3 linked regions of the Homo sapiens genome follow. The protein of the gene in region 1 purifies or fractionates together with the protein of each later gene. This does not show direct contact. Each region holds a gene or a part of one and is shown on either strand. Other genes may lie near its edges. The genes, in order: ARFGEF2, ZDHHC11 and NUP88.

Region 1 (3,656 bases):
AAAAAAAAAAAAAAAAAAGATTGCAACACCAATGCCTCTGAATTTCAGCAGGTCATCTGTTAGGTGCCAGGTACTGTGCCAGTTACTTACTGCACTAGTCCATTTAACCTTTGCAATAATCCTGTGACAAAGGTATTACTATCTTTATCACCTTGGGAAACTGCGGCCCAAAGAGGGATCACTGGACTATCAATAAGCAAATCAAACTTTCAAAGTCTCAATCAACTCTCTGCCAATCCTACATATAAATGCTTTTCAATAATCAAGAACAATCCAGTTTTTTGATGCTGCTTCCAGACAGATAACCTCCTCCTGAAGAATCCACAGTGGTTTTCAACAAAAAGTAATCTTCCAGGGTCCTGAGTCCTGTTATTTCTCAAAATTTTTATGATACATAGCACTTATAAACGAAATGTCTCATCAAAACACTAGAATTTGCTAAAATTAAAGGCTTTATTCTGCATTTCAATTTAAAGTCTTGTTATGTCAATTTATTTATTTATTTTTTAATTTTTTTTTTTTTGAGACAGAGTCTCGCTCTGTTGCCAAGGCTGGAGTGCAGTGGCGCCATCTTGGCTCACTGCAACCTCCACCTCCCGGGTTCAAGCAATTCTCCTGCCTCAGCCTCCCAAGTAGCTGGGATTACGGGTGTGCGCCACCACGCCCAGCTAATTTTTGTATTTTAGTACAGATGGGGTTTCGCCATTTTGGCCAGGCTAGTCTTGAACCCCTGGCCTCAACTGAGCCGCCCGCCTCGACCTCCCAAAGTACTGAGATTACAGGCGTGAGCCACCATGCCCCGCCACGTTACATCAATTTAGAGATGTTTTTTATATTTTTCAAGTTTCACAGTAATCCTCATGATGAGAATGGTTTTTCTGAACACATCAAAATTAGAATAAAAGGATCATATGGAAGAAAAAGCAATTTATGTATCATATGGACACACAGATGTCCATATGATAAATGCCCATTTGTATGTCTTACACACATTCATATACAACTAAGATTTAGGAATATACTTCCTTAACTGGATCCCTTAACAATATTTAAAGTTAAAATCTTTTCTACCTTTAAATAAACAAACAACTCCCAGGAGCCACTCCTTCTTCCTCTTTACAACACAACCAAACTTTGGGAGAGCTGACTATGCTCACCATCTGTTTCCTCACCTCCCACGCCTCAACCCATGCCAGTCTGGCTTTCACCTCCATCACAGCATCAAAAAAGCTCAAGCTAAGGTCACCAATGACCCATCCACATCCTAAATCTCGTATATTAAACAGAGGAGCAAATCTAAGAATGGATGTTATGATCTATGTGAAGCTACATCATGTGCTGCAGCTACGTTTCCCCACCCAGCTGTGTGGATGTGGATGGGCAAGTTGCTCTCTTCCTTAGCCTTGGTCTCCCATTGCCTGCTGTACCCAAAGAAATGAATCACAATCCAGAATTAATAACAGGTCACAACTCCAGAATTAATAAGAGGGAGTTTACTGCTGATGAAGAGATATCATCAATTAGAAAAACTGATTAACTCCAGCCCAGACAACAGAAAAACCCCGTCTCTACTAAAAACAGAAAAATTAGCCAGGTGGGTGGTACGCCCCTGTAGTCCTAGCTACTTGGGAGGCTGAAATGGGAGGATCACCTGAGCCAGGGATGGAGAGGTTGCAGTGACCTGAGATCGCACCCCACCACTGCACTCCAGCCTGGGCCACAGAGCAAGATCCTGTCTCAAAAAAAAAAAAGAAAAACTGAATAACTCAAATGAAACTTATGTGTAACCAGCTCTTTACTCTCATTTCCTTCTTTCCATTAGCCCCTAATTAAAGTAAACCTAGTATATATGTAGTAAAAACCTGAAGAAAAGAGCTGTGATCTTTTTGACTCAAGGCTTTCAAACATATCTCAAAATTCAGCTATAGAAAATACAGTCTCCTGAAACTCCACTGCGGTATACTGATTGTTTTAAAAACTCTACTGAGTATTTCAAACATAACAACTTTCATATGGAGAAGCAAGAAAACATGGTAGTAATAGTTAAGATCTTGGACTATGGAGCCAGATTGCCTGTGTTTATACCCTGGTTCCATCACTTACTGAGTTACCCTGGCCAACTTAACTTCTCTGGGCCTCAGTGGGAATGATGATAATAGTGAGAACTAAATTGCATGAAAAGCCCACTTTACTGTGCCTGGAACTCAGAAATGCTTAGTACATAGGAGATATAATACAACATGTGATCTTTAAAAGTCATTCAATTTCATATGAAAATACGTATGTTTACTATTCTTTTTAAATTTTCTTGATAATGGCTGAGAATAATGACAACTAGTAATTATAGAGCACCTAGCCATTACTTAGCACTTTTGTGTGAGGGTCTCACCCTGCTGTCTCGGCTGGAGTGCAATGGCATGATCTCAACTCACTGCAACCTCCATTTCCTAGGTTCAAGTCATCCTCCCACCTCAGCCTCCCAAGTAGCCGGGACTACAGGCATGCACTACCACACCCAGCTAATTTTTATATATTTTTTTAGAGATGGGGTTTTGCCATGTTGCACAGGCTGGTCTCAAACTCCTGGGCTCATGCAATCTGCCCACCTTGGCCTCCTAAAGCGCTGGAATTACAGGCATGAACCACAGTGCCCAGCCATAGATAAATTTTTCCATATCGAATTTTAAATAGATTATCCTATTAAGCCTCCAAACTTCATATAGTTTAAGAGCAGAAACATAACTTAAAGATACATGATGGGAGAAGATGAGTCTTAAATAAGACAATTATAAAAGGGAGGTTTAAGAATGTAATTATATTCTCCAACAGAGGGCTGAAAGGTTGAAGATTATTAATATATATCAAAGTTTCATAACAAGGTAAAGAGCAACAGTATCCTTGGGGCGATGAATACTCTCACAGGCTGTCTTGATTTCTCCAGATAAAGGTTGGAAGGGCACTATCCCCTACTTGGGCAGTCCCTATTTATGCTTTTGGTGTATAGTGCGGACGAATCATTGAGATTACTCCAAATCTGCTCCATCATGATTATCACAATTTTTACAAAGGACAACCCCTGTCTTCATTGAGTTTAGGAAGTTAATACTCCAACACAGCCTTTCAATCACGTAATTACATTCTTATTTACTGCATCTACAAACCAAATAGAGCAGTAAGTCATTCCTGAACGAGGAACTAAGGTTAAGAACATCAAACCAGAGTAATTACAGCTGCTGTGGTTTGTCACAGCTTAAAATAATAATAATAAAAAAGTAATAGCAAGCATTTACTGAGCACCTACTACATGCCAAGTTTTTTGCACATGTCAATTAACTTAATCTTTACAATAATCCTATAAGGAAGTAACTTGTCCAAGATCACAAACGTAGCAAGTGGAAGGCAGGAGGTTTGAACACAGAAGTCTAGGGTCCCAAAGAATACACTCCTAGCTAACATCTACACTATACAGTCCCTGCAGCCCTGATCCTCTCCCCTAATATGCTACAGCTGGTGGAATCATATCACAGAAGCTGTTTCCTGTAAATGCTCTCTATCATCCAAGCATTTCAACTTTGAGCCGTCATTTACAGTTCCTCTTATCACAATTAACAACAATCTATACATGGTAATCTCTAAAATACCACATAGCTGCTCCT
Region 2 (3,656 bases), on another chromosome or scaffold:
TGCCCACCCCTTCCTAAGTGCTGGGGTCACAGCGCCCACCCCTTGCTCACTAAGAGCCAGGGTCACAGCGCCCACCCCTTCCTAAGTGCCGGGGTCACAGCGCCCACCCCCCTTCCTCACTAAGTGCCGGGGTCACAGTGCCCACCCCTTCCTCACTAAGTGCCGGGGTCACAGTGCCCACCCCTTCCTCACTAAGTGCCAGGGTCACAGCACCCATCCCTTCCTTATTTAGTGCCAGGGTCACAGTGCCCACCCCTTCCTAAGTGCCGGGGTCACAGCACCCACCCCTTCCTAAGTGCTGGGGTCACAGTGCCTGCCGGCTCTGCCGGGCCCCAGCACCCATCCTTTCCTAAGTGCCAGGGCCCCAGCACCCACCCCTTCCTTACTAAGTGCCAGGGTCACAGTGCCCACCCCTTCCTTACTAAGTGCCGGGGTCACAGTGCCCACCCCTTCCTCACTAAGTGCCAGGGTCACAGTGCCCACCCCTTCCTCACTAAGTGCCGGGGTCACAGTGCCCACCCCTTCCTCACTAAGTGCCGGGGTCACAGTGCCCACCCCTTCCTCACTAAGTGCCAGGGTCACAGCACCCATCCCTTCCTTATTTAGTGCCAGGGTCACGGTGCCCACCCCTTCCTAAGTGCCGGGGTCACAGAGCCTGCCAGCTCTGCCAGGCCCCAGCACCCATCCCTTGCTCATGGCCCACTCTGTGTCCCTGGACCCGCTGCACCCTAAAACAGCTGCCTTCAAATAGAACAGGAAAGCCACAGCTCTCGCCTGGGGTCATTTCTAAGATATGGTCCTCTGTGACACTGGGCTGCCAACACTCAAAACCACACTTCCAAAAATCAGGCGTAATGCAGAATGGCAGAGGGCCAGGCAAGGCAGAATGGCAGAGGGTGGGGCAAGGCAGAATGGCAGAGGGATGGATTCAGCATGGATGTCTTTGGGTGACTCAGCATGGATGTCTTTCGGTGACAGACCCTCTCTGGAACTGGTGGCCTCGGGGCCATCCTAGAAGGCAAACACCACACTCAGCCTGACAGGACCGCAGCTCCATGTGCCTGGGCCGGGCTGGACCCCATGCTGCCCCCCTTAGCCAGTGACATCACGATGAGTTCAGCCCATGAGAAGAAGGAGCAGCTTTGCTCAGGGCCTTGCTGGTTTTGAAGCCCTGCAGAATCATCTGGAACAGCAAACCCAGGAATTCACTCAGGCCACAATCAATGAATTCACACGGAGACACTGGCACTGCCCTGTGGAAGCAGCATGTTCCAGGAGAGAAGGCAGCACATGCCATCTTGGCCACCTCTGCTCTCTCACTCTCCCCTGGCATCCCCCACAGGGAGAGCCCAGACAACATGGAGGCTGCTGGGGAAGGTGACTTGCTACTGGGGGAGAAGAACGCAACAGGCATCGTCCTGGGCTTGGGTCCGCTGAGGTCAGGGCCTCGCCAGGGTGGAGCTGGCTTTCAGGAAGTGCTTCAGAAGCGGCTGTGAGGCCCTGGAGGCATCAGTCACGCTTCGAAGTGGAAGGAGGAGCTTTAGGGACTTCCACGTGGAGCTGGCAAAGCTCATCCTTGAAAAAAATGTCACACCGTGTTGGCTCCGGAATGTTCTGGAACAAGGGCAGGCAAGTCCTCCCTGTCTCGCCACCCGGGCTGTGTGCAGTGCGGGTGCAGCCATGCCTGGGGCTGAGACTGGCAGTCTTGTCCTGCACCCCGAGGGGCTTCTCTGGCCCAGGTCCTCCTGGTCAGGGTCCTGGCGCTGCTGCAATAAATACATCAAATGGTGGCGGGTGGGGGCAGCTTCTCCAGCAGACTCTTGCAGTCTGAGGCAGGCAGGGCTCTGACGTCCAGCTGCAGGACAGTTGGGCACGCTGCCTCCGCAGGGTCCAGGGAGGTCTTCCCAATTTTGCCAGCTCCTGTGGCTCCCGGCGACCCCGGGCTGTGGCTGTGTGACTCCACCCCTGCCTCCATCCTCACGAGGCCACCTCCCCTCTGTGTCTCTCCTTTCTCTTACAAGCACACTCGTGGCTGGATTTGGGCCCCCTGGGACATCCCAGCACGACCCTCCCACCTCAGATATTAAGTCACAGCCACAGGCCCATTTCCCGAGGATGCTGGCATCACGGGATCTGGGTTAGGCGTGGACTCGCCTCTGGAGCCCACAGTCCTCACCGCCACGTCTCTCCAGTGGCTCAGTGTGAGCATCGGTTCCCGAGGCCCAGGCTCCGGGCCCACTTGGCCAAGGGCCTCAGCGCACCGCAGCCTACAGCCCAGCACCCTCAGCGCTGCCTCCACTCTCCCTCCCCATGGGCTGCTCCTGCAGGATGGGCACCCCCACCCTCCCACAACTACATGGCCCCACAGGATGGTGTGACAGGTGCTACAGGGATGACTGCGGAGGGCAGGGGCAGAGGTGGACCCCACTGTCTCTCGCCTGACACGACCTGGCAGCATCTACAGAGCAGCGTGGCCAGCGCCCTCCCCGAGCCTGCCTCCCGCGCGCTGGGGGCTGCTGGGCTGTATGAACACTGGGCTGCTGCCGTCGGGCCAGGTCAGAGCCTGCATGGGGCTGCCTGCCCCGGCCTCTCCCTGGGACAAGAGGGGCCGACCACCCCAGACCCGATACTACCACCCGGAAAGACGGCTGGAGGCGAGGATGAGGCCCCTTGAGAGCGGCGGCCACGTACCTTCATACCTGGGGTCCGTGCGGAGCACCCCGGGGTTCACGAGGTACTGGACGAGGACATACAGCAGGATGGCGATCAGGCAGAGCATGCCAGCTGTGGCCGAGGCCACAGTGCTGAAGAAGAACCTGCCGGGAGACACACAGGCAGGCATGGGGGTGGGGACGTGGGAGCAGTGGGGGCGCAGGGGCAGGTGTGGGGGGCACGGGGGCAGGGGGTGTGCACGGGGTGGGCAGGGGCGGGCGTGGGGGGCACAGCGGCAGGGGCATGCGGGGCATGTGGGACAGGTGTGGGGGCGGGGAGGCAGGGGCAGGGACACGCAGGGCATCTGAGGCAGGGGCGGGGGCATGCAGGGCAGGTGGGGGGTGCAGAGGCAGGGGCAGGGACACGCAGGGCATCTGGGGCAGGGGCGGGGGCATGCAGGGCAGGTGTGGGGGGCGCAGGGGTGGGGACGCGCAGGGCATCTGGAGCCCGCAGGGTGGAGGTGACAGGTCAGTGTGGGCGTCCACTTGAGGGCGCCTGGCCACCGCCCAACGCTGGCCTCAAACCCTGCTCCCGACCGCGCCTGGAAGCTCAGGCTCCTGTCTCTGTGCCGTCCTGTGACGCCCCCCCAGGTCTCCAGGCCTCTCGCTGGAGAGGGGTGGCCGTGGGACATTCCCACCAGCACACCGCCCGACAATTCAGGCAGCGCTTCTTGCAAACGTGATTGCCTTTAATCCCCACAAGGAACAAGGAGGTTGTGAGGAGGGGGAACCAGCCCTTTTCACGAGTGGGGAAAGTGAGGTCAGAGATGCGGTGCGACTCGCCCAAGCCTACCAGCGGAGCATGAGGGTCACACGGCGTCTCCAGTGTCACAGCTCTGGGGCCTCTGCCCGCACCTCCCGACTCCACCTGATGCAGACAGGCCTCCCTACCAGCCAAGGAGCACGCGGGCTCGGTCCACTCGGGGGGCCCTGAGCATGGTCTGT
Region 3 (2,321 bases), on another chromosome or scaffold:
GTGGCCAAAGGTATTTTACAGTAATTATGTTCAAAAATATTTCCAGTACTTGCACCGTTTGCCACCTTAAATGAATAGTGAACACTATTGCTATCCACCTGAAACCTTCAGCTGTTAATTTTAGCAAAGCAGTTCTTAGATGTTTCAACATTACCAGTTTAAATTCTTAAGAATCCATATAAATGGTTTATTATAATTCCAAAAGTGAGTGACTTTACAATTTTACAGGGGTGAACATATAAGGGAAATGGTGAAGCAAATCAATGATATCCGCAATCATGTAAACTTCTGACACCACCAGGAGCTGACTCACACCTGAACTGAACACCATTGAAGGCTTAAACCCATATTGTAAAACAGGTAGAATTATCTAATTTATAAAAAGGTGTTTTGATGACCTTTGGTGTGGTTCATCTTTTTAAATATGTTGTTTTATAATAATTGAGTAAATGCTTTTATTTAAAATTTGGAATGTGCTTTATAACTCAAGCCTACAGTTGTGTTCAGCAAGGACTCAGGATTATTTCACACTGCACACTGCCAGAACCTCCCTGAACCCTATTGAGTTTTCTCCATATTTGAGCAAGTTAGTTATTCTTGTGAGCTGTGTTTTAAAGTAGCAGCACCAGAAACATGACTCTGAAGAGGGATAGAACCCTAGGATTCAAAGGAGAAGACCACACAGTGTACTTGGCAGCAGCTTTTTTAATTTGAACACTTTCTTCTTGAGGACACACCTTCAGTACAGTTAACAAATGGTTACACCTGAAATCTGCTGAGAGCAGAGCTCAAGATCCACAATTGCAAAGGCCACTGCTGGCTCACTTCCTCACAAGCTGTATTACCTTTCAGAGCTGAGTGAGGCTGTGCTCTACGTCCCAATACTTGTTACTGAGTGGACATGAGGTGCAAGTTTAGCACCTTAAAGGGAGAAAAAAATAGGTTAGTATGCAGAATGTGATTTTGTCCTCACTTCACCTTAAGTCATCTTTTTACACTTGCCAATGTGAGTTCTGAAAGGTACTACTATATCTGCTTAGAAATGGCTGAGTGACTGTCAATTAAAAGCCACATGATAAGGTAGGTTACAGGTAAGAGGTAAATCAGGTTAGACATGCATGAGAACATGTAGGCACAGACTGAATATAAGCACAGGAACACTCGTGAAACCCAACTGAGCTTTTCTTTTGCCTAGAAGGGCTAAATCCTGCCTTCTACATCAGTTCCCATTTATGCTGAAAACCCAGTTGAAAGAATTGTTTCCTACCTGGACAGTGACACAGTAGTTTGTTTCATACCAGAAACACATTGCTAAACAAAACTTAAGAGTCTCAGTTTGGGTTTTTCTACAATAAAGTGAATTCCAACAGTTGGCATTTGCCACAGTAGAGACCACTAACCATTCCCTAATTGTGATGATTTTATTACCCAGCACCATCTTCTGGAGAAAAATATCTGTAAGGTGCTCAGTCTCAGCAGAACACTTCACTGCAAGCTCTAGTTCAGTCAGTTCAGAAAGGCTGTGAATTGCCCACCCTGATTTACAGCACTAATTTTAATAATCTGAAGACAAATTCGCTTGGGGCTTATCCAAGGGACTAGTCTTAAACCTACGTAATTTAAATTGATTGCATTTTATAATTAATAAAATCCCCTGTAACTCAATAGTTATATGTTTCCTTTATCTAAACCATGTAGCACTCTTTATAAAGGGACTTTAAACCAATTAAAATAATGTTTCATGTGCGGCAAGCCTTTAGTACTATTTCCATAATTGGTATTTATTTTTAAATTCATAACCATGAATGCAAGACTACAATAATAACCCAAGAGATGAGGTATGTAGTACTTATCATTTGTCCTATGGAAGACAGAAGTACAGAAGATCTTTAGGGTAAGTCCATAGTGACCTCATTTATAACAAAGACAATTCACTTTAAGTTGATGGTGGCGTTATGTGAACAAAACAATCTACCTAGTTCACTAACTCCCAGAAGGCTCTTTCAGGTACCCTGCTGTTATGCAACCAGTCTCAAAAATGATTTGAAAACCATCTTACTTTTGAACCTCCTGGATGATGAATCCATCCACTGGATATTCCTGGGACAGTACTCTCAGCAGGTATTGATGAACATGAATCAATTCTTTGTGCTTTCTGTAGCACTTCATAAAGTTATGGCAAAGACCTGTTTCACTGAGGCTTTCTTCACACAGGAAAGGAATCTAATGCTTGTAAAATGACAAGACAGATTTCCAATTCTAACTAACTGGCTTTCCATAAGCATTGTCACTTACTTACATTCCAGGTCTGAATTCAAAAG

The links.
Region 2: the proteins of ARFGEF2 (region 1) and ZDHHC11 purify together in Homo sapiens (co-immunoprecipitation; one large-scale study listed by IntAct). This does not show direct contact.
Region 3: the proteins of ARFGEF2 (region 1) and NUP88 fractionate together in Homo sapiens (co-fractionation; one large-scale study listed by BioGRID). This does not show direct contact.

The regions. Positions count from the first base shown.
Region 1 is NC_000020.11:48,924,555-48,928,210, reverse strand, and holds part of ARFGEF2 (brefeldin A-inhibited guanine nucleotide-exchange protein 2), read right to left. Parts: intron 1-3,656. UniProt on the Homo sapiens protein: Promotes guanine-nucleotide exchange on ARF1 and ARF3 and to a lower extent on ARF5 and ARF6. Promotes the activation of ARF1/ARF5/ARF6 through replacement of GDP with GTP. Involved in the regulation of Golgi vesicular transport.
Region 2 is NC_000005.10:840,909-844,564, forward strand, and holds part of ZDHHC11 (palmitoyltransferase ZDHHC11), read right to left. Parts: intron 2,817-3,656; coding exon 2,692-2,816; intron 1,767-2,691; coding exon of another isoform or gene 1,589-1,766; exon of another isoform or gene 785-1,588; coding exon of another isoform or gene 775-784; exon of another isoform or gene 1-774. UniProt on the Homo sapiens protein: Endoplasmic reticulum-localized palmitoyltransferase that could catalyze the addition of palmitate onto various protein substrates and be involved in a variety of cellular processes.
Region 3 is NC_000017.11:5,384,177-5,386,497, reverse strand, and holds the end of NUP88 (nuclear pore complex protein Nup88), read left to right. Parts: intron 1-157; exon of another isoform or gene 158-228; coding exon 229-292; 3' UTR 293-1,665; downstream 1,666-2,321. UniProt on the Homo sapiens protein: Component of nuclear pore complex.